Regions from separate parts of the Homo sapiens genome. Here regions 2, 3 and 4 are each linked to region 1. The links come from fine-mapping of genetic effects on gene expression. A gene starts in region 1. Each other region holds a variant in brackets. All regions are shown on one strand. Distances are between the middles of the regions.

Region 1 (8,101 bases):
GTCACATGGAAACAGGCAAAAGATATTGTACGACATTGCACCCAGTGTCAAGTCCTACACCTGCCCACTCAAGAGGCAGGAGTTAATCCCAGGGGTCTGTGTCCTAATGCATTACGGCAAATGGATGTCACGCATGTACCTTCATTTGGAAGATTATTATATGTTCATGTAACAGTTGATACTTATTCACATTTCATATGGGCAACCTGCCAGACAGGAGAAAGTACTTCCCATGTTAAAAAACATTTATTACCTTGTTTTGCTGTAATGAGAGTTCCAGAAAAAATTAAAACTGACAATGGGGCAGGATACTGTAGTAAAGCTTTCCAAAAATTCTTAAGTCAGTGGAAAATTTCACATACAACAGGAATTCCTTATAATTCCCAAGGACAGGCCATAGTTGAAAGAACTAATAGAACACTCAAAACTCAATTAGTTAAATAAAAAGAAGGGGGAGACAGTAAGGAATGTACCACGCCTCAGATGCAACTTAATCTAGCACTTTATATTTTTTAAACATTTATAGAAATCAGACTACTACTTCTGCAGAACAACATCTTACTGGTAAAAAGAACAGCCCACATGAAGGAAAACTGATTTGGTAGAAAGATAATAAAAATAAGACATGGGAAATAGGGAAGGTGGTAACATGGGGGAGAGGTTTTGCTTGTGTTTCACCAGGAGAAAATCAGCTTCCTGTTTGGATACCCACTAGACATTTGAAGTTCTACAATGAACCCATCGGAGATGCAAAGAAAAGCACCTCCACGGAGACAGAAACACCGCAATCGTGCGCCATCGACTCACAAGATGAACAAAATGGAGTCTCTTATATCTACTTCTTTCTACACAGACACAGTAACAGTCTGATCTCTCTTTCTTTTCCCCACAGCTGAGGCAGGAGAATCACTTGAACCTGGGAGGGGGAGGTTGCAGTGAGCCGAGATATCACATCATTGCACTCCAGCCTGGGCAACAAGAATTAAACTCAGTCTCAAAAAAAAGGACAAATGTATAATTTAAATCAATCGTTCCTTTAGCAATCATAGTTTTTACACATTATTCTTAAGCAGAGCTTGGAATTAGAAATAGCTTGATCAGAAAGTATTTCCCAAAAGAATTATTCATCTTTTAGATGAATCCCAAAGTGCTGGGGTTACAGGCGTGAGCCACCACATCCAGCCTCATTCGCCTTTTCTAAAAACATGCTTGAGTCTTGCCTATTCCCCAAAAGAAAATCTGCTGCTACAGCTCTGCCCTTTCCTTGCTTTACTGTTAAATATTGCTACCACTGTTCAATATTGGTACCACCTCCTCGCTCCTTAACGTCTTGCGATTGACCTCTATCACCTCCATCTTTAATTTCTGTATCACATTTAACATTGACAACCTGCCCTCCCTTTCTTCATTTGCTTTCCATGGCTCTTCTCTCTTCTAATTCTCTCCCTACCACTCTGATCATTTGTATGTCTTTTGCCAACTTTTCCCCACGTTTCTGTCTTGGGAGTTTTTTTTTTTTTTTTTTTTTTAAGAGACGGGTTCACTCTGTTGCCTAGGCTGGAGTGCAATGGCATGATCATAGCTCACTGTAACCTCAAACTCCTGGCTTCAGGCGATCCTCTCACCTTGACCATTCAAAGTGTTGGGATTACAGGTGTAAGCCACCGCACCTGACTGGAACCTCTTTTTTTCCTACATTCTCCTTTGTGATCCCATCAACTTCCACAACTTTACTTACATTTATGTGAAAAAGTCCAAAATTTGTACATCTTCAGCGTCTACTTTTCTCCCAAACTCCCACACTTACATTTCCTAGAACCCTTAAATTTCAGATATGGAGATCTTAGAGGTCATTTATCCTAAGTCTTCATTGCCTGGATGTCTCCACCAAATGGTTCATTCGCTTTTAATAAAGTCCATGTTTTCAGGCCGGGCACGGTGGTTCACGCCCGTAATCCCAGCATTTGGGAGGCCGAGGCAGGCAGGTCACCTGAGTTCAGGAGTTTGAGACCAGCCTGGCCAACATGGCGAAACCCTGTCTCTACTAAAAATACAAAAATCAGCCGGGCATGGTGGCGCACACCTGTAGTCGGGAGGCTGAGGCAGGAGAATCACTTTAACCCGCGAGGCAGAGGTTGTAGGGAACTGAGATTGTGCTACTGCACTACAGCCTGGGTGACAGAGCGAGACTCCGTCTCAAAAAAAAAAAAAAAAAAAAAAAAAAGTCCATGTTTTCAAAACTGAATGCCTTATTTTCTCTCTGCTTTTCAGCTCCATTCCCAAATTGACTCCTCTTCTTGAATTTATTGTTTCTATAAATAATCACCTTGAGGCACACAGTCTTCTCATTCTCTATTCAGTCAGCTGCTAGTCTAGTGGATTCCATTGTCACAGACTCTCTTGGTTAGGTTCACTATTTTCTATTCTTAACTACTACGTTTCTAGGTTAAATCCTAATTATCTCCCACCTAACGTTTGCAGAGGACTCGGCTAGACTGTTCATCTCTGGTAGTTTTCTGCTTGGAATTCTGAGTCTTTTTATTCATTACCACCAAATTATCTCCATAAAGAGCACTTCTTATCTGCCACTCTTTTTTTTTTTTTTTTTTTGAGACGGACTCTCACTGTCACCCAGGCTGGAGTTCAGTGGCGAGATGCGATCTCGGTTCACTGCAACCTCCGCCTCCCAGGTAAAAGCGATTCTCCTGCCTCAGGCTCCTGAGTAGCTGGGACTACAGGTGCACGCCACCACGCCTGGCTAATTTTTGTATTTTTAGTAGAGACGGGGTTTCTCCATGTTGACCAGGATGGTTTCTATCGCCTGACATCATGATCCACCCTCATCGGCCTCCCAAGGTGCTGGGATTACATGCGTGGGCCACCGTGCCCAGCCTTGTTTTGTATTTCTAGTAGAGACAGGGTTTCACCATGTTGGCCAGGCTGGTTTCGAACTCCTGACCTCAAGTGATTCGCCCGCCTACGCCTCCCAGAGTGCTGGCATTACAGGCGTGAGTCACCGCGCCCAGCCAGGCCTGTAAGCTTTCTAAGGGCAGAGACTGCCTTACTATACACGTACCCCCCCCAACTAACACAGTACCATCCACATACAGACAGACGCCCAGGAAATGTTAAACTGTAATTCTGGATAGGTTAACTAGTATTAACCGTATTTACCAAATGTTTACCACATACTTACACTGTCCTCCTTGTTTCAAGGAGCGTAGTCCCCAAGGGATCACCCTGATGGAATATAAAAACTACACATAAGAGTGAAACTACGGAACGTAAGCCATTAGTGTTTTGCAAGACAGCTCGGGTTGAGACTCAGTCTCTCTCTTCCACAGGCCAAGTGACACATCGTAATACCATTGGTACCGTTTTATTTTATTTTTCGCGACAAAGTCTCGTCCTGTCACCCAGGCTGGAGTGCAGTGGCGCGATTTCGGCTCACTGCAACCTCCGCCTGCAGGGTTCAAGCGATTCTCCTGCCTCAGCCTCCCAAGTAATTGGGATTACAAACGCCCGCCACCACGCCCGGCTAATATTTGTATTTTTAGTAGAGACGGGGTTTCACCATGTTGGTCAGGCTGGTCTCGAACTCCTAACCTCAGGTGATCCGCCCACCTCGGCCTCCCAAAGTGCTAGGATTACAGGCGTGAGGCACCGCGCCCGGCCTGTTAGTACTACTTTAAAATCGAATCTGACCTCCAAATCATTTTCTGGAGCTCGATCATTTTCTGCTAACACCGCAAAGCTTAATCCTCTCCACCTGAGAATAAAAGGTTCCATCCTTCCGCTCTCCAGTTTGACGCCCTGCTAAGTCTCTCGGACGCGGTGGGCTGGAGTGAAGGAAGCCGGAGCCCACCAAAGCTGCAAAAGTACCACAGCCAGCAGCCCCGCCCCCGATATCCCCCACAGGCTTCCAATTGGTCCTTGTGGCTCACTCTCTTTCCAGGTTGGTGTTCCAGCTTGCCGGTCGCCTCTATAGAGCCCACCTTTAGACGGCGACTATTGGTAGATCGTTACGTCATTGCCCTATCTACCTCACTCCCACTGGCTCTCATAGGAAGGGGCGGTCGCAACGTCACGGGCAAGGGCCGCCATTTTGACTGAGCAACCCTAGTGACAGGAGCCGAAGCAGCAGCGCAGGTTGTCCCCGTTTCCCCTCCCCCTTCCCTTCTCCGGTTGCCTTCCCGGGCCCCTTACACTCCACAGTCCCGGTCCCGCCATGTCCCAGAAACAAGAAGAAGAGAACCCTGCGGAGGAGACCGGCGAGGAGAAGCAGGTGAAGTGGAAGGGGTGCGGGCGGGCGAGCTGGGGAGACCGTGATGGGGCGGGAGACGGTCTCCCACCAGTGCGGATTGGTCGCCATGGTCTCAGGCTCCGCAGGGGTTGGCCACTTTTTGCGTCACGCTGGGTGAGCTTCAACACGACATGCTGCTTTGGCGCTGGTTAGTTGGGTCGTTTGTCACTCAGTACTGTACTCTTCCTGATTGGCCAATAGGCCTACCGCTCAAACCTTGGACGCTGTGCTATAATTGGCCGAGCATGGACGTGGGGCGGGTGGTTGGAAAGACGGTGAATGGAAAGGGGATGGCTGGTGGTCTTGGGTGTGATGTGTGTTATTGGTTTGTAGAGGTAAGTGACCCAGCAACCGGGCTGGGGCCCGCAGCCTCAATCCGCAAAGATAGGGGTCGAGGTAAAGACGTTTAAAAAAAAACCAGTATTGGGGGAGGGGAGAAGTGTAGTTATTATAATGGCTAGTTTAAGGCGGCAACTTTCTCAAGAGACCTATTTTAGTAGCTAAGGATGGTCTATTGCTCACCTTCAGTGAGGACCCAGCAATATTGAAGAGGGCTAGAGTTCCAAACAGAATCATGGTAATTAAACTTGGAAAAGACGCCGACAGGGTCGTGAGAAAGACACTTCTCTCTTCCCCTAGACTTCCAAGGCAGGGACTTAGTGCACCTGCGATTCCGTGATGGAAACACTAACGCCAAATAAACCCCTTATTGGGGTTTGTATTTGACTTTTAAAATTTAGTACTGGGTTCAGGTACTCATTAAATACACTTGGTGTTATATCTATGCGTAATTTCCAAGAGAAAGGAATATAATTCCACTAAAAAGAGTCATACGTTGACTTCATATCTTTTCAAAAAGTCACTAAAGGGCAGCAGGGACCACAAAAAAAAAAAAAAGAGATTGACTACAGTAGTGAGAGTCCCTGCACCACCAGGGTAGGTATTGATTTTTTTGATGAAAACTGGTGGGTAAATACTAGTGAGCCTACTGTATCTTTGTTTTCCTGAGGTTAAAAACAGTATCATTTTCCTCTCTGTTTATCAGCTTGCTACCATAATATTTGTGGAAATGTTGAAGCAAGGCTGTGCCATTACTCAGGTGGAGATCTTTGGAGAAGGCCACATAGCTAGCCGCCTCCACAGGGAGACCTAACAGGTGGCTTAGACCTTGAATAAAGAAGGAACTGCTTTGTCGTGTAGCAATTTTAAAAAAGAAAGAAAAAAATAAGGAGGAAACATTTAGCAAACTATTTTTTGTTGTTGTAGAGACGGGGTTTCAACATATTGCCCAGGCGGGTAGTGAATTCATGAGCTCAAGTGATGCACCTGCCTCAGCCTCCCAAAGTGCTGGGATTACAGGCATGAGTCACTGCTCCCAGCCCCAAACTATTTTTTTTTTAATTTCTCATGTGACATGTAGGATAGCCTAGGGAACCCTGCTACTCATCCTCTATCACCAGAAGCCCTGCTTTTTTCTCTTTGTCTTTCTTAGCATTTGTGCTGAGTGATATGGCCCACTCTGTGATTAAAGTATTGTGTTTAGTATTACCTTTAGCCCAATACGCACAGGTCCCTGGCTGGTTCCTTGGGTGAAGTGTGAGAAGCAGCTTGTCTTTTTCTCTCACAATAGTCATCTTGAGCTTTAGGGATTTTAACAAAGGTCTAGCTTTAACAGCAGAGTAGAGATAGCGTATTTACAAGTGGGTGGATTTCCAGGAGAAGTTGATAGTATAGTTGTTATCAGATGTGAGAAGCTGTTGTTTCTCAGTCTTTAATTTTATTTGGCTCATTTGTTTTCTCCAGGACACGCAGGAGAAAGAAGGTATTCTGCCTGAGAGAGCTGAAGAGGCAAAGCTAAAGGCCAAATACCCAAGCCTAGGACAAAAGCCTGGAGGCTCCGACTTCCTCATGAAGAGACTCCAGAAAGGGGTATGGGGCATAGTCTCTTACCCTCTTTCTTTGGAGCTAAAGGAGGTTCTTCGAATGAAGTCTGTAGAGGTTCTACTGGATCCTTTTCTGGAGGTTTTGTTGTTGAACAGAAGTAGAGGCGAATTTGAAATTTGAAAAGAGCAAGTCAAATTAATGTAAATCCCTGATGTGGTATCAATTCCCTCCTGATTTCCCATGTAGGAAATTAAGGCCTAAATTGGAGCATTTGGGTGTGTGGGGAAATGAGGGAAAGATGTTAGAAACTGAAATGCAGACTGCCCCCAGGCATTTGCCTGTTTGAATGTTGGAGGTTTTAGGATTGTGCACTTTTTAAGCATTAGAGATAAATTTTGGGATGCATCATTTCAGAAGAAGATCAAACCATCTCTCCTACAGAAATAAATCCTCAACTTGAAATGAATCAGTTTCTTCATACCCTTGAAGTGAGCACCAGCCATTAATTATACTCCTGCAGCAAATGTATTTTTCTTGTTCAGAGTGGTCCTCCTTACCAAGAGAGAGTCTACTTTCATAGCCATGTAGCTCCTGATCAGATTTTTAGTTCCCAAAGGTACCTAAAGCTGACTGAGGGATTATATTATCGTTTTTTAAAAAAAAAATTTGGCCAGGCGCAGTGGCTCACGCCTGTAATCCCAGCACTTTGGGAGGCCGAGGCGGGCGGAGCACGAGGTCAGGAGATCGAGACCATAGTGAAACCCCGTCTCTATTAATAATACAAACACTTAGCCGGGTGTGGTGGCGGGCGCCTGTAGTCCCAGCTACTCGGGAGGCTGAAGCAGGAGAATGGCGTGAACCCGGGAGGCGGAGCTTGCAGTGAGCCGAGATCGTGCCACTGCACTCCAGCCTGGGCAACATAGCGAGGCTCCATCTCAAAAAAAAATTTTTTTATTTTCCTTACTCTCCTCTGCAATGACTGTAGGATTATAAATCATTACATTGGAGTGTGCTTCTCTGTGCGGATGAAATGGTGGGTGAAACATCCCTGTGGAGGATCCCAGTTATTGAGTCTTAGTCACAGATGATAATGTGATGCTGATTTGCATTTACCTTGCTGGAGGCAAGGCAGGCGTGGGCAGGCTGTCACAGTCATGGAACATGTGTGGGAGCTGTGAGAGTCAGAAGGAAAATACATTATCCTCATGAACAGGCCCAGTTTCTATTCCTGGTCTGGGAGAATAATCATTTTGAGGTTGTTGGCTTGTGGTTGATCTCCTGGTGGCTAGGATAGCCCCATATTTATCCTTCTCTATATCTTATTCATTTCTGTTTCTCCAGTTCCAGGCTATTGCCCTGTACCCAGTAAGGTCCTCAGTTACCCTTTATGAATAAGTGATTTTGGTGGAACGATCCTCTACTGAGTGGAGTACAAAGGATGGCAGGGGCTATCCCTTGACTCCAAAACTATATACTCTAGCTGGGAAATTGCTTATGTACCTGAAAAAGTCAGAACACACTGGGGAGAAGACATAAGTACATGTAATTAATGTTAAACTGTGTATGCATGAGGTTAATCAAGGAAGACTTCTTGAAAGATCCGAGTGTGCATGAGGGTTTATAATGGATGTGAGATGTGAGTCTCCTTGTTTTTGAGGAAGGCCAGAGTCCTCACTCACCTAAACCTCCCTCTTATCTCTTAGCAAAAGTACTTTGACTCAGGAGACTACAACATGGCCAAAGCCAAGATGAAGAATAAGCAGCTGCCAAGTGCAGGACCAGACAAGAACCTGGTGACTGGTGATCACATCCCCACCCCACAGGATCTGCCCCAGAGAAAGTCCTCGCTCGTCACCAGCAAGCTTGCGGGGTAACCTGAGCCCCCCTCTCCTCCCCTTCCTCAACCACTGGACG
Region 2 (8,101 bases), 82 kb after region 1:
CAGCTGGGGAAGCGGGAAGGAGAGGTGCAGCCGGGGCTGCCTCATGCCCCAGCCACAGGCCTCTCATTCTGAAGAGCCGGGAAGTCCATCTGAAGTTCAGCTTTGAACACTGGAGAAGTGAGGCTTGGAAGCCACCCCAGCCACCAAGCCTGACTCTCTTTGCCCCCTTCTTCTCACTTTGAGTCCTTCCCACCCCTGCTCCTCATCCCACTCTTAGTTCTGCTTTCCAGGAAAAAAAAAATCTGTTTCTGTTGGATCTGAAAGGCACCCGGGAGAGGAATCCAGGGAGCCCTCGCATTGCTGAGGTGGGCCAGCTCTGGGGCAGAAAATGACCAAGAGAAGGGTAGGAATGTGCCTGGGGGCAGACACTCAGCCCCACTGCCCTCCCTGAGACCTAGGGTTCGGAATTTGAGGGAGGGGTCAGAGTGGCTGAGCCAGAGCGGGCGCCTCAGGGATTGGGGTTGGGGTGGGGGTTGCCGATGGCCACTCCTTCCCCTGGCTGGGCCGGCCACTAAGGTCAGCAACTCCACCCTGACTGAACGGGGGAGGCCAGGATCTCCAGAGAAGGGCCCATGTTCCACCCAAGTCTTCAGGCTCTGCCTGACTCTTGTTACTCCAGCTGAGGGAAGAAGAAATGGGGTGATAGTCACTGCCTGCCCCTTCTCTGATGCCGACCCCTCTTCATGCCCTCTCTGCCTCTGCTTCTCTCTGCCACCGAGATCTCTTCTCGCAGCCCCTCTCCACGGGTCTACCCAGTACACATAATCCCATCCCGAGCTGGGTTTGGCTTTGGCAGTTCCCTGGAGAAGTGAGGGGTGGGGGTGACGTGAGCTCCCGGGGCCCGGGCCAGGCCTGGCTCCCTCTCTGGAAAAGTCCCACCCCACCCTCCCCTGCGCAGCCCGGCAGGGGCCCATGCCCCCTCCTCTGCAGAAACACACGCACATTTATGCTTCTCACCCCTTTCCATGTCCCTCATTTGGTGTCGTTCCCGGCCCAGGACGAGGAAAGGAGAGGTCAGAGGTGGTCACTCTGGTGCCAGAGTAGACCCTGGTCTGGACAAACGCGGGCTCCTCCTGGCCACACCTCTCCACACTGCCCAGTGAAGACCAAGGAACAGAGACCTGCGCAGGGCTCACCCCTTCACCCCCAGGTCTCCCTGCTGGAGAGTGGTTGGACCCTGTGTTTCTGGGCCTAGCCATGGAGAATCCCTGTCCTGAGTCCGAATTCCCGGGCCCTCAGAGCCCTCCACTCCTGGGTCTGGCAGGCCACCCCAACAGGTGTCTTTCTTTTTTGTCAACCTCTTCTGCCATCGGGCTGAGCTGGATCAAGGGCACCCACCTGCGTCCCTCGCGGCGACCCTGTCCTCCAAGTTCAGGAGTGCAGTGGGGGACACACCGTCCGAGAGCACCCTCCTAGAGAGAGGGCAGGAGGCACCGGCCGCGCGGGGAGGTCATGGGTCTGTTTTCCAACTTTACTATGTGACTTAGGAGGAATTTTGGTTCACTCCCCGCCCGGGTGATGGGGCCAGAGTTCCACGGGATCAGACTCCCTCCCCAGGAATTCGACCCCAGGGGCTGGAAGATTGTCCGAGGCCACCGGAGCTGGGTCCGGGGTCGTGGCGGGGTCGCGACCGCACAGCGCAGGGAGAGGGGACGACGCGGGCGCGCGGGGCGGGCGGTCTAACGGGACCCGGGAGAGGGGCGGCCGGGGCCGGGGTCCCGGGGAGGTCTCTACCTGCTCTGCGAGCCCCCGGTGGCCCGTTAACCCTTCTGCGCCCAGGCGCTCTCTCCAGGCAACCTCGCTCCGCGGCGGCCACTGGGGCCCCTGAGCCGCGCTCCGGTCACGGCCGCCTCGGCCGCAACTCCGCCCTCGCGCCCGCCCCCGCCCAGCCCCGCCCGCCACGCGCCCCAGCCCGCGCCCCTCGGCGGCCCCGGGGTGGGGCCGGTCTGCCTCGCAGCCCCACTCGCCAGGACCACCCACCCCGGGCTGCGCGCCGGGCGCCCCCCGACGGCTGCGTGAGCTGAAGCCCGGGCTGGCCCAGCCGGGGTCGGAGGCTGCAGTCGCTCCCGGGCGCTGTCCTCGTGCCCGGCCGAGACTAGGGACTTAAGCAGCCCGGGCTGGCCCAGCCGGGGTCAGAGGCTGCAGTCGCTCCCGGGCGCTGTCCTCGTGCCCGGCTGAGACTAGGGACTTAAGCAACCCGGGCCTCCGAGCCGCTCGGGTGAGCGGTGCGAACACGGCGCGGCGCGGCGCGGCACAGGCGGGGCAGCCTCCAGGGGCGCCTGGAGCGAGGCGGCCTGGGAGAGCCGCTGGTCCGGGAGGGAAGCGCCCTGGACGGAGGTACCCGCGGCCCCCGATCCGCGTGGGTCCAGGCTCTCCCCTCCACGCAGCCTCCCCTGCAAACTCAGTCACTCCTGCCTCTCCCGTGTTGGGCAGTGGTGGTTCAGATTGCTGGGACTTCTATGAGCTTCGGTTTTTTTCCTCAGTAAGGTTTTACACTCGGGACTCAGCGAAAGGACAGCGTGCTGACTTCTGAGTCAGACTGATCTGGATTTGAACCTCAGCTCCAGCTCTTGCCAGCTATGTGGTCTTCGACGAATACTTCCACCCCTGTGTGGTGCAGTTTGCTCATCTGCAAAATGGGACTAATCTAATATATATGATGGGCTTGGATATGTCTCTTTATGCATTTATACATGGAAGAATGCACCCCAAACTCAGTAGTATTGGTGACATCTGGGGAGGGATGCAGGGTTGGGGGAGGACTGAAAAAGGCTTTTGCTTTTTACTCTGCGTTATGTTTATTATTATTATATTATTATTTATTTATTTTTTTTGAGACGGAGTCTCACTCTGTCGTCCAGGCTGGAGTGCAGTGGTGCTATCTTGGCTCACTGCAAGCTCCGCCTCCCAGGTTCACGCCATTCTCCTGCCCTAGCCTCCTGAGTAGCTGGGACTACAGGCGTCTGCCACCACGCCCGGCTAATTTTTTGTATTTTTAGTAGAGACGGGGTTTCATCGTGTTAGCCAGAATGGTCTCGATCTCCTGACCTCGTGATCCGTCCGCCTCGGCCTCCCAAAGTGCTGGGATTACAGGCGTGAGCCACCGCACCCAGCTATGTAATGTTATTTTTGTGAATTTTTTTAACCACAAGAGCAATCCATCTATTAGTTTTATCTTTTTTTTTTCTTTTTTTTTTTGAGATGGAGTTTCACTCTTGTTGCCCAGGCTGGAGTGCAGTGGCGCGATCTCGGCTCACTGCAACCTCCGCCTCCCAGGTTCAAGTGATTCTCCTGCCTCAGCCTCCCAAGTAGCTGGGATTAGAGGCATGCGCCACCATGCCTGGCTTATTTTATATTTTTTAGTAGAGACGGGATTTCTCCATGTTAGTCAGGCTAGCCTCCAACTCCCGACCTCAAGTGATCCTCCTGCCTCGGCCTCCCAAAGTTCTGGGATTATA[G/A]GCGTGAGCCACCGCGCCTGGCTATTATTTATTATAAATAATATATGTAAGCTGGGCATGGTGGTGAAAGCCTGTAGTCCTAGCTACTCAGGAGGCTGAGCGGGGAGGATTGCTTGAGCCCAGGAGTTTGAGGCTGCAGTGAACTATGATCGTGCCACTGCACTCCAGCCCCTGCGACAGAGAGAGACCTCGTCTCAAAAAATAAACACATAAATAAATAAAATATGTAAAATGGCTGGCATAGAGTAGACAATAAATGGTCACTGCTATTTTTATATTTTACTTTTTTTTTTTTGAGAAGGAGTCTTGTCCTGTCACCCAGGCTGGAGTGCAATGGCGCCATCTCAGCTCACTGCAACCTCTGCCTCCTGGGTTCAAGCCATTCTCCTGCCTCAGCCTCCTGAGTAGGTGGGATTGCAGGCACGAGCCACCACGCCTGGCTAATTTTTTGTATCTTTAGTAGAGATGGGGTTTCACCATGTTGGCCAGGCTGGTCTCGAACTCCTGACCTCATGATCCGTCCGCCTCAGCCTCCCAAAGTGCTGGGATTACAGACATGAGCCACTGCTCCCGGCCTATATTTTTACTTTCTATTTACTGACGCGTTGTATTTTGTTGGGTCTACTCAGTGTTTTAAAGGTTTTTGTTTGTTTGTTTTTTGTTTTTAAGACAGGCTAGTTTCAAACTCCTGGGCTCAAGAAATCCTCCTTCCTTGGGCTCCTAAAATGCCGGGATTACATGTGTGAGCCACTGGGCCCAACCTAAAGGCACATTTTTTTTTTTTAAATAACTTGTCAATACGTATTTTAAAACCTGGATATTTTAAAATTTCTCTTGAAAAACTAAAACACAAAAATAGAAGCTCTAACAACATTGTCCTGCATCCTCACAAAATATCAGAGGTCTTTGGTTCCCCACCTGTCATTTTTTGGGCGCCTTTTGCACTTGGTGTTGAAGAAGCAGCAAGAAGTCTCTGGCCTCAAGGAGTTGGGTCTGATCAGGCACAGACACGGCAGGTAATGGGGTCATGCGAAGGTTAATACTGGGCTCAGCTGAAGGAGATGTTATCTCTAAGAAGATGATGGATATGAAAACGTAAAATGCTTTCAAAATGTAGGAATTGGGCCGGGCGCGGTGGCTCATGCCTGCAATCCCAGCACCTTCGGAGGCCAAGGCGGGCGGATCATCTGAGGTCAGGAGTTCAAGACCAGCCTAGCCAACATGGCGAAACCCCATCTCTACTAAAAATACAAAAATTAGCCGGGTGTGGTGGTGGGCGTTTGTAATCCCAGCTACTCAGGAGGCTGAGACAGGGAGAATTGCTTGAACCTGGCAGGCGGAGGTTGCATTGAGCTGAGATCATGCCACTGCACTCCAGCTTAGGTGACAGAGCGAGACTCTGCCTCAAAAAAATAAAGAAAAGAAAAGAAAATGTAAGAATTGTGTCCCGAGCTGGGTACAATTGCAGGCACCTGTAGTCCTGGCGATTCGGGAGGCTGAAGTGGGAGGATCACTTGAGGCCAAGAGTTCAAGTCCAGCCTGGGCAACATGGCAAGACCCCATATCTAAAAAAAAAAAAAGAAGAAGAAAAAAGAAAGGAGAAAAAGAATTGTATCATTATTTGAAATTTAACATGCATATTTTTTCTCGGTAAATCACTAAGTTCTTTCAGAATAAAGGACTATTTATGCTACTTTGTATCATCTATACTTTTTCCTATTTTATATTAGAGTTTTGTTTTTTTGATAAGTCACTGAAACAACAACAACAACTTGAAAACACGAAGTACACCACGAAACATGAAGCGGGTCAGATTGACCTGCGCCTCTGGGAGGTGCCTCTCCTCATCCTCCATCTGAGTCCTGAGTTCCTACATGGGTTGAGAAGATAAAAGGTTAATGCCCCTCCCAGAGGGGTGGTTTATCTAGGGACTCCTGGTGACAACCTGGAGACATATTTATAGTGCTAGCTTTGAAGGGGAAGCCCCTTTCCCCAGACCTCAGAGTATGATATAGATGATGAGAAGCCCAGCCTTCCGGGCAGAGGAAGATATTTTGGGCCAGGGACCCTTCAGTCCTGGCCCAGTCACACCTCATCAGCATTCACTTATCTACAGGGAGGGAAGCTGCAGGACAGGAGTGTGGGAGGGGAGCCTGGGAGGAGAGAAAAGGTCTGCCTTTGACATTTGTAACTGCTGAGAACTGAAGGTCAGATACAGTCCTTTCCACTAAGAAATGGCTGCTCACCGAAGAGCTCATGAGATTTGCTACTGCTGTCACCTCTCATGGCTTGGTGGTCTGAAAATATTGTAGAAAGAAAAGAGTTTCCTATGCCTCAGCAACTTGTGAAATACCAGATTAAGTTTGTGGACACTGTCTCCAGGATAAAAAGTTTTTAGGCTGGGTGCGGTGTCTCACACCTGTAATCCCAGCACTTTGGGAGGCTGAGGTGGGTAGATTGCTTAAGCCCAGGAATTTGACACCAGCCTGGGCAACATAGCAAGACCCTGTCTCAAAAATAAACAAATACATAAATAATTTTTAAAAAGAAGTTTTTAAGGCCGGGCACTGTGGCTCACACCTGTAATCCCAGCACTTTGGGAGGCTGAGGTGGGCGGATTACCTGAGGTTGGGAGTCCAACACCAGCCTGACCAACCCTGTCTCTACTAAAAATAGAAAAGTAGCCAGGCGTGGTGGCGCATGTCTGTAATCCCAGCTACTTGGGAGGCTGAGGCAGGAGAATCACTTGAATCTGGGAGGCGGAGGTTGCGGTGAGCTCAGATTGCACCATTGCTCTCCAGCCTGGGCAACAAGAGTGAAACTCCGTCTCAAAAAAAAAAAAAAAAAAAAAAGAGAGACGTTTTTAAAAAGATTATGTAATAAGTAGATGTTCATCCAGCCTGTAATCCCAGCACTTTGGGAGGCCGAAGTGGGCAGATCGCTGAGGTCAGAAGTTTGAGACCAGTCTGGCCAACATGGTGAAACCCCGTCTCTACTAAAAATACAAAAATTAGCCAGGCGTGGTGGCAGGCGTCTGTAATCCCAGCTACTCGGGAGGCTGAGGCAGGAGAATTGCTTGAACCCGGGAGGCGGAGGTTGCAGTGAGCCGAGATCGTGTCATTGCACTCCAGCCTGGGTGACAGGGCGAGACTCCATCTCAGAAAAAAGAAAAGTAGATGTTCATCCAAAATTATCTCTAAAGATTGGACAGATAAGGAAAAAAAGAGGGGACAGGCTGACATTGGTCTGACTTTGAGCTCAACATACTGATTTAATAATAATAATATAGCTAACATGTATATAGCACTTACTTTGTGCCCCCGACCGGGCTGTTAGAAGAGCTTTACACACATTACCTCACTCTGTCCTCATTGTAACCCTGTGAGGTGGAGACTGTTACACCATTTACAGATTTGCAAACAAAGACACAAAGACAAATCCACTAATTTGTCTCTAATCTCTCAGCTAGAAAGTGAGAGAGCCAGGATTCTAAATTAGGCGCTGTTATTTGTATACATTGTATGCAAATAAAATTTCCAGAAATTTAGCTGAATTTACTTAATAATTTTTTCCCCTGGCAGTAGCATAAGGAAGTTTTATAAATTAAATAACATTTTGAATGAATGCCTCATATAAGACGTTGTCCCTATTCCAAGATAATGCTGATGCTAATACCAATAATATGTACAGTTGGGGCCCAGAAATGAACATGCAGCTGTCTGTCTTTAGGTTTGTGGTCATAGCAACCATTTTCGGAAAGCCTGGTGTTTGCTTTTCTGCCTCTCCGAATCATGGTTGCTCAACTCCTTTGTTCCAAAACAGACACCCCATTCCCAATTGCTGCGCGCCAGGCTGGCTTCCAGCCGTTGAGTCCGTGTCCTGTCATGCTGTCTCCACTGTTTTGTCTCACTGATGCTGTTCTTCTGACCATTCCGCTTTGGCTTGACGCAGCCGCCCATACTAGGCAGCTGCTATGAGAGCAGCCAGTGGTGACCTGTGCTCTTCCAGGGACTGGAGGGTGAGACCACCTTGCTGTGTTTACCTTTGTATTCACCACCTCACTCTGCACACAGTAGGCATTTAATGAATGTGTGTGGGGTGAGCACTGCCTCAGCTCTGGCCACATTCCAGCATTTTCTGGTTGTTGTCCTGCCCCATCACGGCCCAACTGCCTTGCACCTGATGAAATGATGAAGAAACAGGATGTGATCCATTTGGTACGATGAGGACCAAGACATGAATGGGATATTCTGGTCTCCCAGTCACCGCTATGTAGACTTTATTTCTTTATTTATTTTCTTTTTTAAAAAAGATATACTCGGTCAGGCGCGGTGGCTCACGCCTGTAATTCCAGCACTTTGGGAGGCCAAGGCGGGTGGATCACGAGGTCAGGAGTTCAGGACCAGCCTGGCCAACATAGTGAAACCTCGTCTCTACTAAAAATACAAAAATTAGCTGGGCATGGTTGAGGGCATCTATAGTCCCAGCTACTCGGGAGGCTGAGGCAAGAGAATTGCTTGAACCTGGGAGGCGGAGGTTGCAGTGAGCCGAGATCACGCCACTATACTCCAGCCTGGGCAACAGAGCGAGACTCCATCTCAAAACAAAAAACAAAAACAACAAAAAAAGATATACTCCTATAT
Region 3 (8,101 bases), 27 kb after region 1:
TGAAGATAGAAGGCCAGATGCAGTGGCTTACTCTTGTAATCCTAGCACTTTGGGAGGCTGAGGTGGGAGGATCACTTCAGGCTAGTTCAAGACCAACCTGGGCAACATGGTGAGACCTTGTCTCCACAAAAAAATTAAAAAATTAGGCCGGGCGCAGTGGCTCAAGCCTGTAATCCCAGCACTTTGGGAGGCCAAGGTGGGCGGATCACGAGGTCAAGAGATCGAGACCATCCTGCTCAACATGGTGAAACCCTGTCTCTACTAAAAATACAAAAAATTAGCTGGGCATGGTGGCACGTGCCTGTAGTCCCAGCTACTTGGGAGGCTGAGGCAGGAAAATCACTTGAACCTGGGAGGTAGAGATTGCAGTGAGCACCGAGATTGCACCACTGGACTCCAGCCTGGTGACAGAGCAAGACTCCGTCTCAAAAAAAAAATAAAAAATTTGAAAAAATTAAAAAGCCAGGGGCAGAGGCTCATGCCTGTAATCCCAGCACTTTGGGAGGCTGAGGCAGGCGGATCACTTGAGGTCATCAGGAGTTCAAGACCAGCCTGGCCAAATGGTGAAACCCCGTTTTTACTAAAAATACAAAAATTAGCAGGGTGTGGTGGTGGGCGCCTATAATCCCAGTTACTTTGGAGGCTGAGGCAGGAGAATCACTTGAACTCGGGAGGTGGAGGTTGCAGTGAACTGAGATCGCACCACTATACTCCAGCCTGGGCGACAGAGCAAGAGTAATACATCTAAAAAAAAAAAAAAAAAATTAGCCAGGCATGGTGGTGCATGCCTGTAATCCCAGCTACTACTCAGGAGGCTGAGGCAGGTGGATCACATGAGCCAGGAGTTTGAGGCTGCCATGAGCCATCATCATACCACTGCACTTCAGCCTGGGCCACAGAGTGAGACCCTGTCTCAAAAAAAAAAAAAAAAACAACAACAAAAAAGCGGAGATTGGGTTTATAAAAGAGCTTTCTTTGGAGAGAGCTACTACCATGCTGTGAGCCCTATTCAATCCCAAAGAGAAGAGGTGGGGAAGGGCCAGGTGAGGTGGCTGACGCCTGTAATCCCAGCACTTTGGGAAGCTGAGGCGGGCAGGTCACCTGAGGTTAGGAGTTCGAGACTAGCCTGGCTAACATGGTGAAACCCCGTCTCTACTAAAAATAAAAAAAATTAGCCAGGCGCGGTGACGGGTGCCTGTAGTCCCAGCTACTCAGGAGGCTGAGGCAGGAGAATCGCTTGAACCTGGGAGGTGGAGGTTGCAGTGAGCTGAGATCGCACCACTGCACTCCAGCCTGGGCAGGGGGAGCAAAACTCCATCCCCCACCCCAAAAAAAAGAGATGAGGTGAGGAGTAATTCTATCTTCTCAATCCTAGAGACAGTGGCTTCAAGACCACTGAAACATTTTGTATTTGTCCTTGGGTAAGGGATAATCATTAGACTGTGTATGACTCACGGTAGAGGAATTTCAAGGCAAAAGCTGACTAACAACAGAGCCTGATGTAACAAAGTAGAGAGTCACATCCTGGAAGTCACCACACTGGCTTCTGATAAACGGTCAGATATACATGAATCCTGTGGACCATGTGTGGAGCCAGTTTAAATCCTACTCAAGAGAACTGCCTGGATGCATAGTGGGGCTCTTCATGTGGAAAAGAACACTGGAAAACAAAAGGATAATGAGAGAGTGGTGGCTATAGAAATAGAATACATCACCTCACTTCAGGAAGTTGCCACTGCCTTTGGAAAGCGCCCCCAGGGAAGCCTCTGATGGAGCCATACAAATGCTCATGAGATAATTCTTAACATCAGCCAGGCCTAGACAGCATGAAGCCACTAATAACCCTTCCTCTTCATTCTGCCCCATTCCTAGAAATATCAGTGTAGCAAAAGGAGAGAAGCCAACTACCCCCTCTTTCACAGAGGCGAGCTGGCTGGCTCTGTTGACCCTAGCTGTGGGGTAGAGAGATTCTTACCTATGATGAAAATTGATGTGTTAATATATTTCGGACCAAGAGTATGTTTTGCTACTTAAAGTGGTTGCAAAGACTATTACCTAAAGGTGATCCACATCTGAGGAAAACCTCTCCCACTGAAATAAATTGTGCAGAGACAGGGGAAAACAAATTAAACTTTAATTTTCATTACATTTCTTCAGTTGGTACTTGTTAAGCATTCCAGTTATGGTCACCTTTGTATTCTCTGAGGCACTTAATTGGCACTCATGATATTGAGATTATTCCTTCCAGATTGTAGTATGTAACCTTCTGGTTAATATCCTCTCTATAATAAAACAAAAGACAGTTTTAGGGACTTAAATTTCAATAAATCTGGTTGAGGCCAAGGAACCAGAAATAAATTGAAAACTCAATTTATTTCAAGGAAACTTGAAATAAATTGAAATAAAGTTAGTTGGAAACTAACTTTAAGATAATCTAGTTCCAGGCCAGGCACGTGGCTTACCCTGTAATCCCATCACTTTGGCAGGCTGAGGCAAGCGGATCTCTTGAGCTTAGGAGTTAGAGACCAGCCTGGGTAACACAGCAGAACCCTGTCTCTTAAAAAAAAAAAAAATCTAGTTCCAACGAATGCCTCCTCAGTGAATCTTTTTCACAGTATCCCTGGAAAGTGAATATTTAGTCTCTTGAATAACTCCAGTGTCTTGAAATCTACTATCTTCACCCTCATGAAAACGTCAAGAGTTTGAGGACCACCTCTTTCTACATCTACTAGCCTAAACATTTTCCCTCCCTTTAGCTAGTCCTCCTTGACATAGTGTGGACTCCTGGCATCACCTTGTCTACTCTCTGGATGAGCTCAAATGTGTCAGTGTGCCTGTCTAACTTTGGTCCAGATGTGGCCTCACCAAGCCAAATAGAACTAAACCATTACCTGCTTGCTTGTAGACCTGGACCGTAGGAGAGCCCAAGGCCCCCTTAGGTTTTCTTTACTACTTATGCTACTGACTCATATCAAACTGACACCTAAGCTGGACATGGTGGTGCACACTTGTAGTCTTAGCTGCTCTAGAGGCTGAGGCAGAAGGTAGCTTGAGCTCCAAGAGTTTGAAACCGGCCTGGGCAACATAGCAAGATGCCCATCTGACAACTGACAAAAACCTACAGGTGTTATTTTCGGGGTAAGGTAGGGTTGTTTTGATTTCATAATAATAAATTAATGCATTAATTTTATACAACATATAACATTAAAAACCTTCATTCAAAAAAAAAACAAAACTACAGGTTGGACATGGTGGCTCACGCCTGTAGTCCTAGCACTTTAGGAGGCCAAGGTGAGCGGATTGCCTGAGCTTAGGAGTTTGAGACCAGCCTGGGCAACATGGTGAAACCCCATCTCTACTAAAATACAAAAAATTAGCTGGGCATGGTGTACTCCTATAGTCCCAGCTACTCGGCAGGCTGAGGCGGGAGAATGGCTTGAACCCAGGAGGTGGAGGTTGCAGTGAGCCGAGATCATGCTACTGCACTTCAGCCTGGATGACAGAGCAAGACTCCAACTCAAAAACAAAAAACAACAACAACAAAAAAAGCCGGTCGCATGGCACATGTATACATATGTAACTAACCTGCACAATGTGCACATGTACCCTAAAACTTAGAGTATAATAAAAAAAAAAAATTAAAAAAAG[A/CAA]AAAAAAAAAAAAAAAAGCCGGGCTTGGTGACTCATGCCTGTAATCCCAGCAGTTTGGGAGGTCGAGGCCGGCCGATCACTTGAGGTCAGAAGTTTGAGACCAGCCTGGCTAACATGGTGAAACCCTGTCTCTACTAAAAAAAAAAAAAAAAAAAAAAAAAATTATCTGGCCGTGGTGGCAGACACCTGTAATCCTAGCTACTGAGGAGGCTGAGGCAGGAGAATCGATTAAACCCAGGAGGCGGAGAGGCGGAGGTACGGTGAGCTGAGATGACACCACTGCACTCCAGCCTGGGCGATAGCGTGAGACTCCTCAAAAACGATGAAAAAAAAAAAAAAACTACAAACAAGGCTTCCTTGCCATTATTCCAAGTCCTGGTCCTTTCCTTCCAGAGATAAACACTGTTTAATATTGATTATATATCCTTCCAGCCCTTTTTCTATGTATTTACATGTAGAAATATATGGGAATTTTTTTTTTTTTTTAGACGGTCTCACTCTGTTGCCCAGACTGGAGTGTAGTGGCATGATCTTGGCTCACTGCACCCTCTGCCTCCCAGACCAAGTAATCCTCCCACTTTGGCCTCCAGAGTAGCTGGGACTACAGGCACATGCCACCACGCCTGGATAATTTTTGTATATTTTTTGTAGAGACAGAGTTTTGCCATGTTGCCCAGGCTGATCTTGAATTCCTGGACTCAAGCGATCTGCCTGCCTTGGCCTCCCAAAATGCTGAGATTATAGGCATGAGCCACCACACCCGGCTAGTTATATGAGACTTTTAAAACATAAATGAACCGGGCATAGTGCCTCACACCTGTAATCCCAGCACTTTGGGAGGCTAAGGCAGGAAAATCACTCAAGGCCAGGAGTTTGAGACCATCCTGGGTAACATAGTTTTGTGTCTACAAAAACTAAAAAATAGCCAGGTGTGGTGGCACACACTTGTAGTCCCAGCTACAGGGAGGCTGAGGTGGGAAGATTGCTTGAGCCCTGGAGGTCAAGGCTGCAATGAGCCATGATAGTGCCACTGGATTCCAGCCTGGGCAATAGAGCCAGACCCTGTCTCAAAAAAAAAAAAAAAAAAAAAAGTATCACATGGTTTGTATTATTCCAGATCTTCTTTTTACCCTTAACATGTTTCAGAGAACTTGCATCTCAATACATATAAAGATGTCTCATTCATAAGAACTGTTATATTGTATCCTATAGTATGAATGTATCACAGCTTACTTAACCATTCTGTTGTTGGACATATAGATTGTTTCCAATTGTTTGCTATTACAATGTTTCAGTGAAAATTCTTTATGCCTCTTAGTGCCATATGGGAGTATTTCTCTAGGGTAAAATATAAATATATATATAAATATAAATATATTATAAATATATATAAATATAAATATATTATAAATATATATAAATATAAATATATTATAAATATATATATATATAATATTGTTTTATTTTATTTTAGACAAAGTTTTGCTCTTGTCGCCCAGGCTGGAGTGCAATGGCATGATCTCTGCTTACTGCAACCTCTGCCTCCTGGGTTCAAGCGATTCTCCTGCCTCAGCCTCCTGAGTAGCTGGGATTACAGGCATGCAACACCACGCCCGGCTAATTTTGTAATTTTTTTGTAGAGACGGGGTTTCATCACGTTAGCCAGGCTGGTCTCAAACTCCTGACCTCAGGTAATCCACCCACCTCGGCCTCCCAAAGTGCTGGGATTACAGGCATGAGCCACTGCACCTGGCCTCTCTACGGTAAATATTGAAAGTTGCTGGGTCACAGGGTATGCACATTTAAATTTTTTTTTTCTTTTTAAAGGGACAGAGTCTTGCTCTGTTGCCCAGGCTGGAGTACAGTGACGCAATCTTGGCTCAATGCAACCTCCGCCTCCCGGATTCTGGCTCAATGCAACCTCTGCCTCCCGGATTCAAGCGATTCTTCTGCCTCAGCCTCTGAGTAGCTGGGCCTACAGGCACGTGCCACCATGCCCAGCTAATTTTTGTATTTTTAATACAGACGGGGTTTCACCATATTGGTCAGGCTGTCTCAAATTCCTGACCTCGTGCTCTGCCCTCCTCGGCCTCCCAAAGTTCTGGAATTACAGGTGTGAGCCACCGTGCCCAGCATTTAAAATTTTAATATGTACTTTTTGCAACCCAGAACTCATTGTTCAGTATGAGTTTTGATACATATAAGAAGGGATATTATGATACCTGAGACAGTTAACTGATGGGAGTATTGATAGCCATAAAGGTTGGTTCCAGGCCAGGTGCAGTGGCTCAAGTCTGCAATCCCCACACTGAGGTGGGTGTATTGCTTGAAACCAGGAGTTCAAGACCAGCCTGGGCAAGAAAGTAACAAACACCTCATCTCCACAAAAATTTAAAAACTAGCTGGGTATTGGGGCGTGTGCCTGTAGTTGCAGCTACTCAGGAAGGGGAGGCTGAGGCAAAAGGATTGAGCCCAGGAGTTGGAGGCTGCACTGAGCTTTGATGGCACCACTCTACTCCAGCCTTCGTAACAAAGACCTTGTCTCCTAAAAAAAAGATTGATTCTAGGACTGTAGAATAGATAGTTAAACAGCATGGGATATGAGGGAAATCCTCAGCAGTATTAATTTTGCATTCCAATTTCATGTTGATGAGACATACGATGGCTTTTTGTTTTAAAAGCTTTTATCTTGAGAACATGATGTCTGGAGTTAAAGGTATTGGCATATTCCACACATCTGTACTATTCTTGAGTGAGATGGCTTAAGGTGTCAAATTGATAACCTGGCAGATCCCCACGACCGACAGTATAAAGGACCCTAAAGTAAATTGGTTGAAGAAATTAGATCCCAAAGATTCTTGGTGAATTTTGAAGTCTTCATCAGTATATCCACATTAAAAGGAGACGACAGGAAGCCAAAGTAATTATGGGCTGACAGGACAACTGGATCAGTTTCATTAAAAAGGCTAACTTGAAGATAAATCTTTTGACTCCAGCTCTTTAGAGGATCTAAAGTGACCTTGATGGACAGTGGAAGAAATCACAACATGGAATTCCTTGAATAAAAATTTATTGACTTTAAATAATTTTGTCTATTGTTACATATCCACAATTTAAAAACTATTTACAGCCGGGTGCAGTGGCTCATATCTGTAATCCCAGCACTTTGGGAGGCCAAGGCGGGCAGATCACAAGGTCAAGAGATTGAAGCCATCCTGGTCAACATGGTGAAACCCTGTCTCTACTACAAATACAAAAATTAGCTGGGCGTGGTGGCAGGCGCCTGTAGTCCCAGCTGCTTGGGAGGCTGAGGCAGGAGAATCGCTTGAACCCAGGAGGCGGAGGTTGCAGTGAGCCAAGGTCATGGCATTGCACTCCAGCCTGGCAACAGAGCAAGAATCTATCTCAAAAACAAAACAAAACAAAACAAAAAAACAAACAAAAACCTCCTTACACTGTTGAAAAAAATTGTAATATGTACTTACAGATTGCCCTAAATTGATTTATATTCCCACCAACCTTGTAAGACTGCTATAGGCCATTTGCCCATACTTTTCTAATACTTGATATTAGATATGAGTGGTCATTTAATTTATTATTATTATTTTATTTTATTTTATTTATTTTATTTTTTTTTTTGAGACAGAGTCTTGCTCTGTTGCCCAGGCTGGAGTGCAGTGGCACAATCTCGGCTCACTGCAAGCTCCGCCTCCCAGGTTCACGCCATTCTCCTGCCTCAGCCTCCGAGTAGCTGGGACTACAGGCGCCCACCAGCATGCCCGGCTAATTTTTTGTATTTTTTTAGTAGAGACGGGGTTTCACCGTGTTAGCCAGGATGGTCTCGATCTCCTGACCTCATGATCCGCCCGCCTCGGCCTCCCAAAGTGCTGGGATTACAGGCGTGAGCCACCGCGCCCAGCCTATTATTATTATTTTAGAGACAGAATCTCACTCTGTCACCCAAGCTGGACTACAGTGACATGATCTTGGCTCACTGCAACCTCCACCTCCTGGGTTCAAGCAATTCTCCTGCCTCAGCCCCCTGAGTAGCTGAGATTACAGGTGCACACCACCATGCCCGGCTAATTTTTGTATTTTTTAGTAGAGACAAGGTTTCACTGTATGTTATCCAGGCTGGTCTTGAACTCCTGACCTCAGTTGATCCGCCTGCCTCGGCCTCCCAAAGTACAGGGATTACAGGCATGAGTCACCACACCTGGCCTGGTCATTTACATTTTTGCCAGAATGAAAGATAAGCAAAAGTTACACATGCACACATATACATACATGCGTGTGTAGAGATTATAGGTATATGTGTATGGGCATGTATGTATATACCATTTGTATTGTCCTCCATTTTAACTCCTTATTTTGCCCATATTTTTGTTGTCTCTCCTAAGTTATTTTTTAGAGACAGGATCTTGCTCTGTCACACAGGCTGGTATACATGGGT
Region 4 (8,101 bases), 67 kb after region 1:
GCAGAGGTTGCAGTGATCCTAGATCGTGCCACTGCACTCCAGCCTGGGCCAGTGAGACTATGTCTCAAAAAAAAACTTAGTAAATGCTTGTGGCTTACCATTATACATAAGCCTATGTTTGCAAGACAGTGTACCTTAAACAAAGACCAGGAATACTGTCATTTCCTGGACCCAGGAAAATTGGCCAGGCGCAGTTGCACGCGCTTGTAGTCCCAGATATTCTGGAGGCTAAGGCAGAAGAATCACTTGAGCCCTGGAGTTCAGGGCTATAGTGCGCTATGTTGATCTGGTGTTCATGCTAAGTTCCGCATCAATATGGTGACTTCTTGGGAGTGGGGGACCACCAGGTTGCCTAAGGAGGGGTGAACCTGCCTACGTTGGAAATAGAGCTGGTCAAAACTCCTGTGCTCATCAGTAGTAGAATTGCACCTGTGAATAGCCACCGCCCTCCAGCATGGGCAACATAGCAAGACCCTGCCTCTTAAGATAAAAATTGGAAAACACTGGTAGGAAAAAAAGGCTGTTTGGTCTAAATAAGTCTGGATTGGGTATAAATGACACAAAACTATCATGAATTTGAAAGCATTTCTAATTTCTTGAAAGTCTGAAAAAGTTTAAACAGAATTTTAGCTGAAAAGTCCTGAAAGACATTTGAAAAAAAACAGCAAGAACACTTAAAACTATTCAAGGTTTGGGCTGGGCACAGTGGCTCATGCCTGTAATCCCAGCACTTTGGGAGGCCAAGGCAGGCAGATCACTTGAGGCCAGGAGCTCAAGACCAGCCTGGCCAACATGGCGAAACCCCTTCTCTATTAAAAATACAAAAATTAGCCAGGCATGATGGTGCGTGCCTGTAGTCCCAGCTACTCAGGAGGCTGAGGCAGGAGAATCACTTGAAGCCAGGAGGTTGCAGTGATCCGAAATTGCACCACTGCACTCCAGCCTGGGTGACCAAGCGAGACTCTGTCTCAAAACAAAACAAAACAAAACAAAACAAAAAACTATTCAAGGTTTGGATCATTGAGGCCAAAATTATTTTGATAACAAGATGCCCCGTGTGAATGAAACTGAGTAATAGAAGGCTCATGGCCAGTAGTCGTAGCTACTAGGGAGACTGAGGCAGGAGGATCACTTGAGCCTAGGAAGTTGAGGCTGCAGTGAGCTGTGATTGTGCCACTGCATTTCAGCCTGATGACACAGCAAGACCCTGTCTCAAAAAAAAAAAAAAAAAAAAGAGAAAAGAAGGAAGCCAGGCACCCCATAGGCCCAGCTATTCAAGAAGCTGAGGCGGGAGGATTGCTTGAGCTTAGGAGTTCAAGTCTAGCCTAGGCAACATAGTGAGACCCTGTCTCTTAAAAATATACATATAATTTTTAAAAATTCTTTTATTTTTACATAAATGGAAACAGGGTCTCACTGTGTTGGCCAGGATGGTCTTCAACTCCTGGACTTAGGTGATCTCCCTGCCTTGGCCTCTCTTAAAGTGCTGGGATTACAGGCGTGAGCCACCGTGTCTAACCAAAAATAAATTTTTAAAAGTGTTTTTGGCCAGGCGTGGTGCCTGTAATGCCAACACTTCGGGAGGCCGAGGCGAGTGGATCACTTGAGGTCAGGAGTTCGAGACCACCCTGACCAACATGGTGAAACCCTGTCTCTATTAAAAATACAACATTAGCCAGGCGTGGTGACACATGCCTGTAGTCCCAGCTACTTGGGAGGCTGAGTGAGTAGAATTGCTTGAACCCGGGAGGCGGAGGTTGCAGTGAGCCGAGATCACACCATTGCACCCCAGCCTGGGCAACAAGAGCAAAACTCCATCTAAAAAAAAAAAAAAAAGTGAAGAAACTAGATCTGAAGCCTTAATTTTCTCCCCTATAAACAGGACTTAACGATACTGTCAGCTATCTTATTACCGCAAAGATTTAAAGAGAGACTATTGATACACGTGCTTTGTGCTTTTACCTTAAAGCACTACACAAATAGAAGGAGTTTCAGGACTGTCCCTTAAGGGTTTACTCTATTAACCATTTTCAAGTCCTTAAATTCCCTAGGAGAAGCAATTAAGAACCAGGCATCAGTAGAGTATGTTGAATTAAAAGGTTCTACAGCTGTATTTTGAGGCCTGGAAGAGACACAAACAGGACTTTCTATGGCTAGGCAGAGCAGAAGTCACCAGTTAGGAAAAATCCCCAGGGTCAGAAACCACCTCCCTGCCAAATTTGCCCTGCTGCCTGTTTTTGTATGGCCCACAAGCTAAGAATCATTTTGGTATTTTTAAATGGTTGAAAAAAATGGGCCGGGCACAGTGGCTCATGCCTGTAATTCCAGCACTTTGGGAGGCTGAGGTGGGAGAACTGCTTGAGCCTAGTAGTTCAGGACCAGCCTGGGCAACACAGTGAGACCTTGTCTCTACAAAAAAAAATTTTTTAATTAGCTGGGTGTGGTGACCTGCACCTGTGGTCCCAGCTACTTGGGAGGCTGAGGCAGGAGGATGGCTAGAGCCCTGGAGGTCAAAACTGCAGTGAGCTATGATTGCGCCCCACCCCCGCACTCTACCCTGGGCAACAAAGCAAGATCCTGTCTCAAAAAAAAAAAAAGAAAAATTTAAAACTTTAGTGTCACAAGTCTGATTGGAACACAGCTACGCCCATTTGTTTACTTATTGTCTATGGCTGCTTTGTGCTGCTACAGTAGAGAAGCTGCAACAGAGATGATAGGTCCTGCAAAGCCTAACATATTTATCATCTACTCCTGTAGAGAAAAAGTTTGCCCAACCCTCTACTAAAGCTAAAGAGGAGTCTCATTTTGTGATGAAAGAGGCAGGCAACCAATAGTCAACAGTAAGGAGGAGAGGAATGTAGCGATGGGAGAGAGGAAGGGTGACCTTGTTCCAGGGGAGATGATCTCTGCCTGTCTCATCAAGGGGAGGGCCTTTTAGCCTAGGGATCCCAGGGGTACAGTCTGCTCCTTTTTTTATAATCCCACCCTCTTTCCCCCAGTTTCTTTTCCTCTTCACTCAAAGTTCAGTGGAGCTATCTCAAGAGATTCAGGTAAGGCTCAGAAGAGTACAGCACACAAACATGCCGACCCAACCTAGCCTTCCTCCCCCAGCACAGGGCTCTTCCCAGGCCTCTCAGCACAGCTCTCCAGTGCTCACAGGAGAAATGCTCTGCTCTGGCCAGCTTCCAGCCAACTCTGCACCTCCCCTTCAGCTGGCAGAGCTGATGGCTCCCTGGCATCTGACTGCCATATCTCGTGCATACCTTGTTTTGGACTAATCTTATACATTCCTCCCTCAAATCCTTTCTTCCTTCAGACTCAGCCCTGAAACACCCTCTT[G/CTTG]AGTTTTCCCAGTCTCCTAGGTCAGGAAGCCCAAAAGTCAGATTCAGGGTTTATGCTGGCTACTTTGAGGTTAACCCAAACTTTTTCTGTCTCTTGTTGACAGACTTAGACTTAGGTACTTTCCTGAGGCTTTCTACTTCCTTTAGACGGTGTCTCTGCCCTTTAAAGCTGACAGCTCTTCATCACCTACCTGTGGCAAACCACCTCTACTTGAAACACACACCTCCCCAAACCATAATTTCTACGGTAGCATGATTCTCCATGGTTCAAAGAGAGGAGAGGGCTTCCTGGGTCAGTTTACTCTGGTGGGGAAGATGCTAACATGAAGTCTCTATTTGTAAACCTGGGGACAAGGGGAGAGCAAGGAATGAGAGAGGGTCTGGCTGGAGAGAATCTGGAGGGAGGCTCTCCTGGCATCTTGTTCTCTCTACACCCCACCACCCTCCATGTCCATCTAGAGTCTCCCACCAGAGCTCTTCTCTTACAGGTTTCCTGGGAGAAGGTGGCTTAAGGCTGAGACACTTATGCCCTGGGCCAGCCACTGGATTCCTGTGCTCTGCTTCACTCCTAGTTACCAGAAAGGTGGAATCTGGATGAGTGGAGGTGAGGAGAAGGTTCAAACTCTCCACCAGACCCATGCTGCAGCTGTGAGCACCTGCTTACAGGGAGGCCTGGGGGTTGGGGAAGTCCAGGAGCTAAATTTAGTCCAAAAGCTGCAACTTAAATTGGGTGGGTATTTACCCTGGGGAAGCTGGGAGGGGGAGGGGAGAGGAATCCTGACCCAGCTGAACTTGTGAGAGCACAGATCACCCCTAGTGTCACTGATACTCAAACCACAACCCCCTCCCCCAGCACACCCTCAGAAAGGAGGCATCCTCAACAATTTGCAGGCCTTTTGCATGCTTGATCTCTCTTGTGCATATCAAGTTTGTTCCTATCACCACCCCACCCTCATCTCAATTCTCAGGGGTCCAGTTCCTCTGAGTCCTTCCCTAAATTCCCACTAGTGCACCAAACCCAGGGGCCCTCCCCACATTCCTCTGCCCTCAGGCTGCAGCTTCTGCTCTCCCAAGTCCCCCCAGAGGGTTTCAGAGGTCAGCGAACAGGTGTCTGGCCACACTACTCCCCTCTACGGGGCCAAGAAAAGGGATTGCTTGGGGTCGGGTTCCCTTTCCTGAGAACTTCCGCATTGACCCCATAATGACCTCAGTGACCAGAGGAAGGAATCCTTAGGGGCTGCACTGAGTCCTAGCTCTAAAATAAGAGGGGAAAGGGAGCAGACCCCCAGAGGAGAGCCCACCTCCTGAGAGGTCAGAGGCTGGAGGCCGAGAGGGAGCTCATGGGCGGGCAGAAAGAGAAAGGGGGTGCTGAAGCCGGGGAGCCCTGCGAGGGGCTGCGACCGCACCTCCACCTGCGATTGGTTCTCAGGCTCAGGGCAAACGCCAAACCTGCCCAGCAACAGCCCTGAGCAGAGGGAGGGGAGCTTCGGGGAAGTCAGCTGAGCCGGCACCGCCCAGCTCTGGGCTTCCAGGAATCGCTGGGAGGGCCCCAGCCTCCACCCCACCCCTCCCTGGGTCTCAGGACTCTGCCTTCGGCCTTCTATACCTACTGGGCGGGCTCGGATCCCGTTTCCCTGGCCCCCCACATCTGTGATTCCCTGCTGAGGCCTCTTTAGGCTCAGCAGAGACGTTGGAACTGGGCTTTCCTTGTGGCCCCCTTTCCTCGCTCCCTGCCCTGGGCTGACGTCAGTTTTATCTTCCTTCTCCATTCCCTTTTGCCTCCTTCCCCACTCGCTCTCCTCTTAAGATGTCCAAATTCTTCCTTCTCAGCCACTTTCAACCCAGAGAAAGCCCGAGTCCCAAAGCAACAGGAAGATGTGCGGGGGACCGCGAGTGTGGGGACATCCTGCCGCCTCGGGCAACTCTGTCGTCCCCCACAGGGTTCAGGTGCTCAGAAAACAGCAGCCACTGAGTTCACTGTTTCCGCAGGCCCCGTATTCCCGGCCGTGCTCAGCTGGGCTTGTGGAGTCGCGAGCGGGGGCGCTCCTGCGGCACCGCCCCTCCTGGGCAGCCCGGCTTCCAGGAGAGACTCGGCCTCAGTCTCCGAATGGCAGGGGTCTGGGAGAGGATGTGATGGCAAAGGCCTGCCCCTCTCAGGCCGCCTCTAGCAAGTTCTCTACCTTGAGAGAAGCGAGTAGGAGGAGGAAGGAGGCCAGGCTGAGCCATCTCTGAGGAATGTGGCTTTGGCAGGACATCCAGTGCTGCCCCGCTCCTCCCTCAGCCCCGCCCAGGGCCCTGGAGCCGGGCCGGGCTCCTCCTCCTCCAGGGGAAGGGCTCGGGGCAGGAATCCCTTCCCTTTCCCCACCCCAGAAGAAGCCCCAGAGCGTAGGGATATGCGTACGGCAGAAAGGGAGACAGAAGGCAGGGCTAGAGAAAGGGAACAGGAAAAAAGAGCTTCGACAAGCCAACTGCCCTTCGCTCAGGCCCCAGCGGAAAGGCGCAGATACCCGGAGACTTCCCAGAGAGACTCGACCCACCAAAAAGCGCACCGCGGCCGCGCAGCCCTTCCTTCAGCTCTGGAACCCAGCGCCCCACACCTCAAATGGGAGAACTGGTGACCTCTAGTGGCCCATGACCAGCCTGCAGGGCCTGGGGCTGGCGGGGATTCTCTGACCCAAACTCTCCTGGGCTCTAATGCTGTTCCCCTGCCCACCCTACCTTCTGCCTTCACACTGCTGAGGGGTCCATAGCCGACAAGGAAGAGCTCATTTCTCATTTGTCATGACCATCTTTAATAAAAAATAAATTAGTTCTGGGTGGGAACCATTTCAGGAGGCAGGGAGTGGGGCTAGGGGCTGGGCGGGGTGGTGGGGGAGCGGATGCTCACATTTCTCTTTTTCACCCTCTGCCCAGCTGGGCCTTGCTCTGGAGAGGCAGTCTCTTTCCTCCTGCCTTCCTGAGTAAGGCAGGATTGGCAGTGGCTGACCCCAGCCCTAGCTAATTAGGGAGGCAGGGGCAGAGATACTAGGCAAATGAGAAGGGGTCAGAGACACAGGGCGGCTTAGAAGATGTGAGGTCTGAACATGAGAAATGAGGCTTAGGGCACAAAACTGGAGTTGGTGGGGAGACCACACTCTAAGTAGCTCAGATTAGCAAGGAACTGCAGACTTGCTTTCCTTTCCACCTAGGAAAGTCTCAAGGAAACAGGTCTTGTCCTTCTCAGTCTGTGTAACCTCTTTTTGAAAAGTGATACACGTTTGAGCACACACATATCCATGCAGTCCCAAAAGCACACCTGAGGCATATGTGCACACACCCATCACACCACCACATGGGCCTGACCACAGCCCTGAAAGTCACTTTGTGTCAGTCACCTTGCCACCCTCTGTCACCTGGAGGACATCCCTGCTGAGACTGGGACAGGCTGGAGAGCCAGGGGGTTCAGAGTGGGCCGATCAATGGGTGACCGATGGTGGCACAGAAAACCGTGAAGGTGCCCCGGACCCCTTTCAGGAGGGATCCTGGGGAGACCGCTCCAGGACATGTGCGCAAGAGCGGCAACAGGTGGCTGTGTAGTAGGGGTAGACGCAGAGCCGGGCCTGTACCACCAGGGGGCAATGTGGAGAGCTGTCCTTGCATTGATCATCTGGGGACAGAGGAGGCCAGTGGGCACAAGAGAGTCACCAGGACCCACCCGTCTGGGAATGGGTGTGCTGCCCATTCCCACTGGTCCTTTCTCATCTCCTCCCATACTTCAGCTAATCCACTGTATTGGGGATTGGGGAGAGGGGGCTCTTTACCAGGGCGCTGGCTGCAGGGTTGGCTGTTACAGGGGCGCTTCCTGGAGGGCCGCAGTTGAGGAGGGCATCGGGTGCTGAGGGTCTGGTTGGTGCTCAGGCACTGGACCTCCCGTGTCTGCGTTCCCCCTTGGCAGGAGCGAGAACACTGGGGCGACCCCAGCCATCATATCAGACCTTTGCCAGGCCCGGGATTCTCCTTAACCCCTGGCTGCCACCTCTCTCCCCAAAAGGTGGTGGTGGGGACCCTCCTAGGACATTGTGAAATCCCAAATGGAGAGGGCCCATCTTTCCTCCAAGTCTATAAGAAGTAGGACAGTGGTAACGCTTGGCTGGGCTTATTCTGGGGCACAGAGAGACCTGGAGGGGGTACAGCGAGAGGAGCTCCCCTCCCCTAGGGGCCCAGGCTGAGCAGGGCAGGACAGCGCAGCCAGACACTCACTGGGCTCCAGGGCGTGGAAAACCATCGGTCCTGGCAGGCCTGCCCTTGACAGGGCTGCAGGGCAGGGGGCCTGGGGAGGTGAGAACAGTTGCTCGGAGAAGTCACGTTGAACTCCGTCCCCAGTTTGGATACACAGATGATGTCTCTACGCTGTGTGCCAGAGCCACATTCGGAGGAGCACTAGTGTAGGGGGAGGGCAGGGTGATGAGGGGAGGGGAGGACAGAGAGCACCCCAAGTGCCCACAAGGAATCCCACTGGGACTGGCACCCCCTTCCTGCTCTCAGCAGGCGCTCAGCTTACCTCACCCCAGGGCCCTGTGTACCAGCGCCAAGTTCTCTCACAGGGCCCCAGGCTGCAGGCGCGCATGTCAGGGGGCCGGCTTCCTGTTGGACAGCTCTGCCCAGTTCCTGCTCCTGCTTCCCCCTGGCCTGGCCCGAGGGCTGCCCCACTCCCAAGGCAGACCACAGAGCGCCGCTGGATTCCCGTCCCACACTCGGCTGAGCACTGCGGAGGAGGAGAGCGG

Evidence for each region.
Region 2: its variant is fine-mapped to the expression of ENSA in whole blood (TOPMed, PIP 0.99).
Region 3: its variant is fine-mapped to the expression of ENSA in whole blood (INTERVAL, PIP above 0.99).
Region 4: its variant is fine-mapped to the expression of ENSA in whole blood (TOPMed, PIP above 0.99).

Annotation. Positions count from the first base shown.
Region 1 is chr1:150,625,598-150,633,698 of GRCh38, reverse strand. ENSA (endosulfine alpha) reads left to right here and starts at 4,087. Exons shown (of 4, transcript NM_004436.4): 1 at 4,087-4,285; 2 at 6,107-6,232; 3 at 7,891-8,057. The coding sequence starts at 4,229. It overlaps LOC112268239 (a long non-coding RNA gene), which reads right to left and starts at 3,880. Exons shown (of 2, transcript XR_007066603.1): 1 at 3,197-3,880. RefSeq lists enhancers at 2,423-3,392, 3,393-4,360, 4,103-4,372, 6,993-7,524.
Region 2 is chr1:150,543,133-150,551,233 of GRCh38, reverse strand. ADAMTSL4 (ADAMTS like 4) reads right to left here and starts at 1,826. Exons shown (of 19, transcript NM_019032.6): 1 at 1,735-1,826; 2 at 1,339-1,412. LOC124904417 reads right to left here and starts at 944. Exons shown (of 1, transcript XM_047438226.1): 1 at 1-944. The coding sequence starts at 944. The coding sequence ends at 174. ADAMTSL4-AS2 (ADAMTSL4 antisense RNA 2) reads left to right here. Exons shown (of 6, transcript NR_187269.1): 6 at 2,484-2,670. RefSeq lists enhancers at 1-620, 6,927-7,427, 7,428-7,928, silencers at 1,956-2,095, 2,266-2,415, 2,347-2,641 and a cis regulatory region at 5,114-5,833. The variant G/A (reference allele first, on the strand shown) is at 3,459.
Region 3 is chr1:150,598,301-150,606,401 of GRCh38, reverse strand. LOC107985203 (a long non-coding RNA gene) reads right to left here. Exons shown (of 3, transcript NR_186818.1): 3 at 2,118-2,282. It also overlaps the pseudogene LOC124900445. Among named protein-coding and RNA genes, the nearest start is that of MCL1, 23 kb to the right of the region's middle. RefSeq lists enhancers at 934-1,772, 7,916-8,101. The variant A/CAA (reference allele first, on the strand shown) is at 3,649.
Region 4 is chr1:150,558,943-150,567,043 of GRCh38, reverse strand. It overlaps ADAMTSL4 (ADAMTS like 4), which reads right to left. Exons shown (of 19, transcript NM_019032.6): 16 at 7,879-8,082; 17 at 7,578-7,757; 18 at 7,139-7,283; 19 at 6,111-6,984. The coding sequence ends at 6,848. It overlaps ADAMTSL4-AS1 (ADAMTSL4 antisense RNA 1), which reads left to right. Exons shown (of 4, transcript NR_104133.1): 3 at 3,827-3,942; 4 at 5,822-6,149. It also overlaps the pseudogene RN7SL473P. Among named protein-coding and RNA genes, the nearest start is that of ADAMTSL4-AS2, 5.3 kb to the right of the region's middle. RefSeq lists enhancers at 3,598-3,647, 3,918-4,197, 3,546-4,399, 4,400-5,251, 5,078-5,257 and 2 more. The variant G/CTTG (reference allele first, on the strand shown) is at 3,340.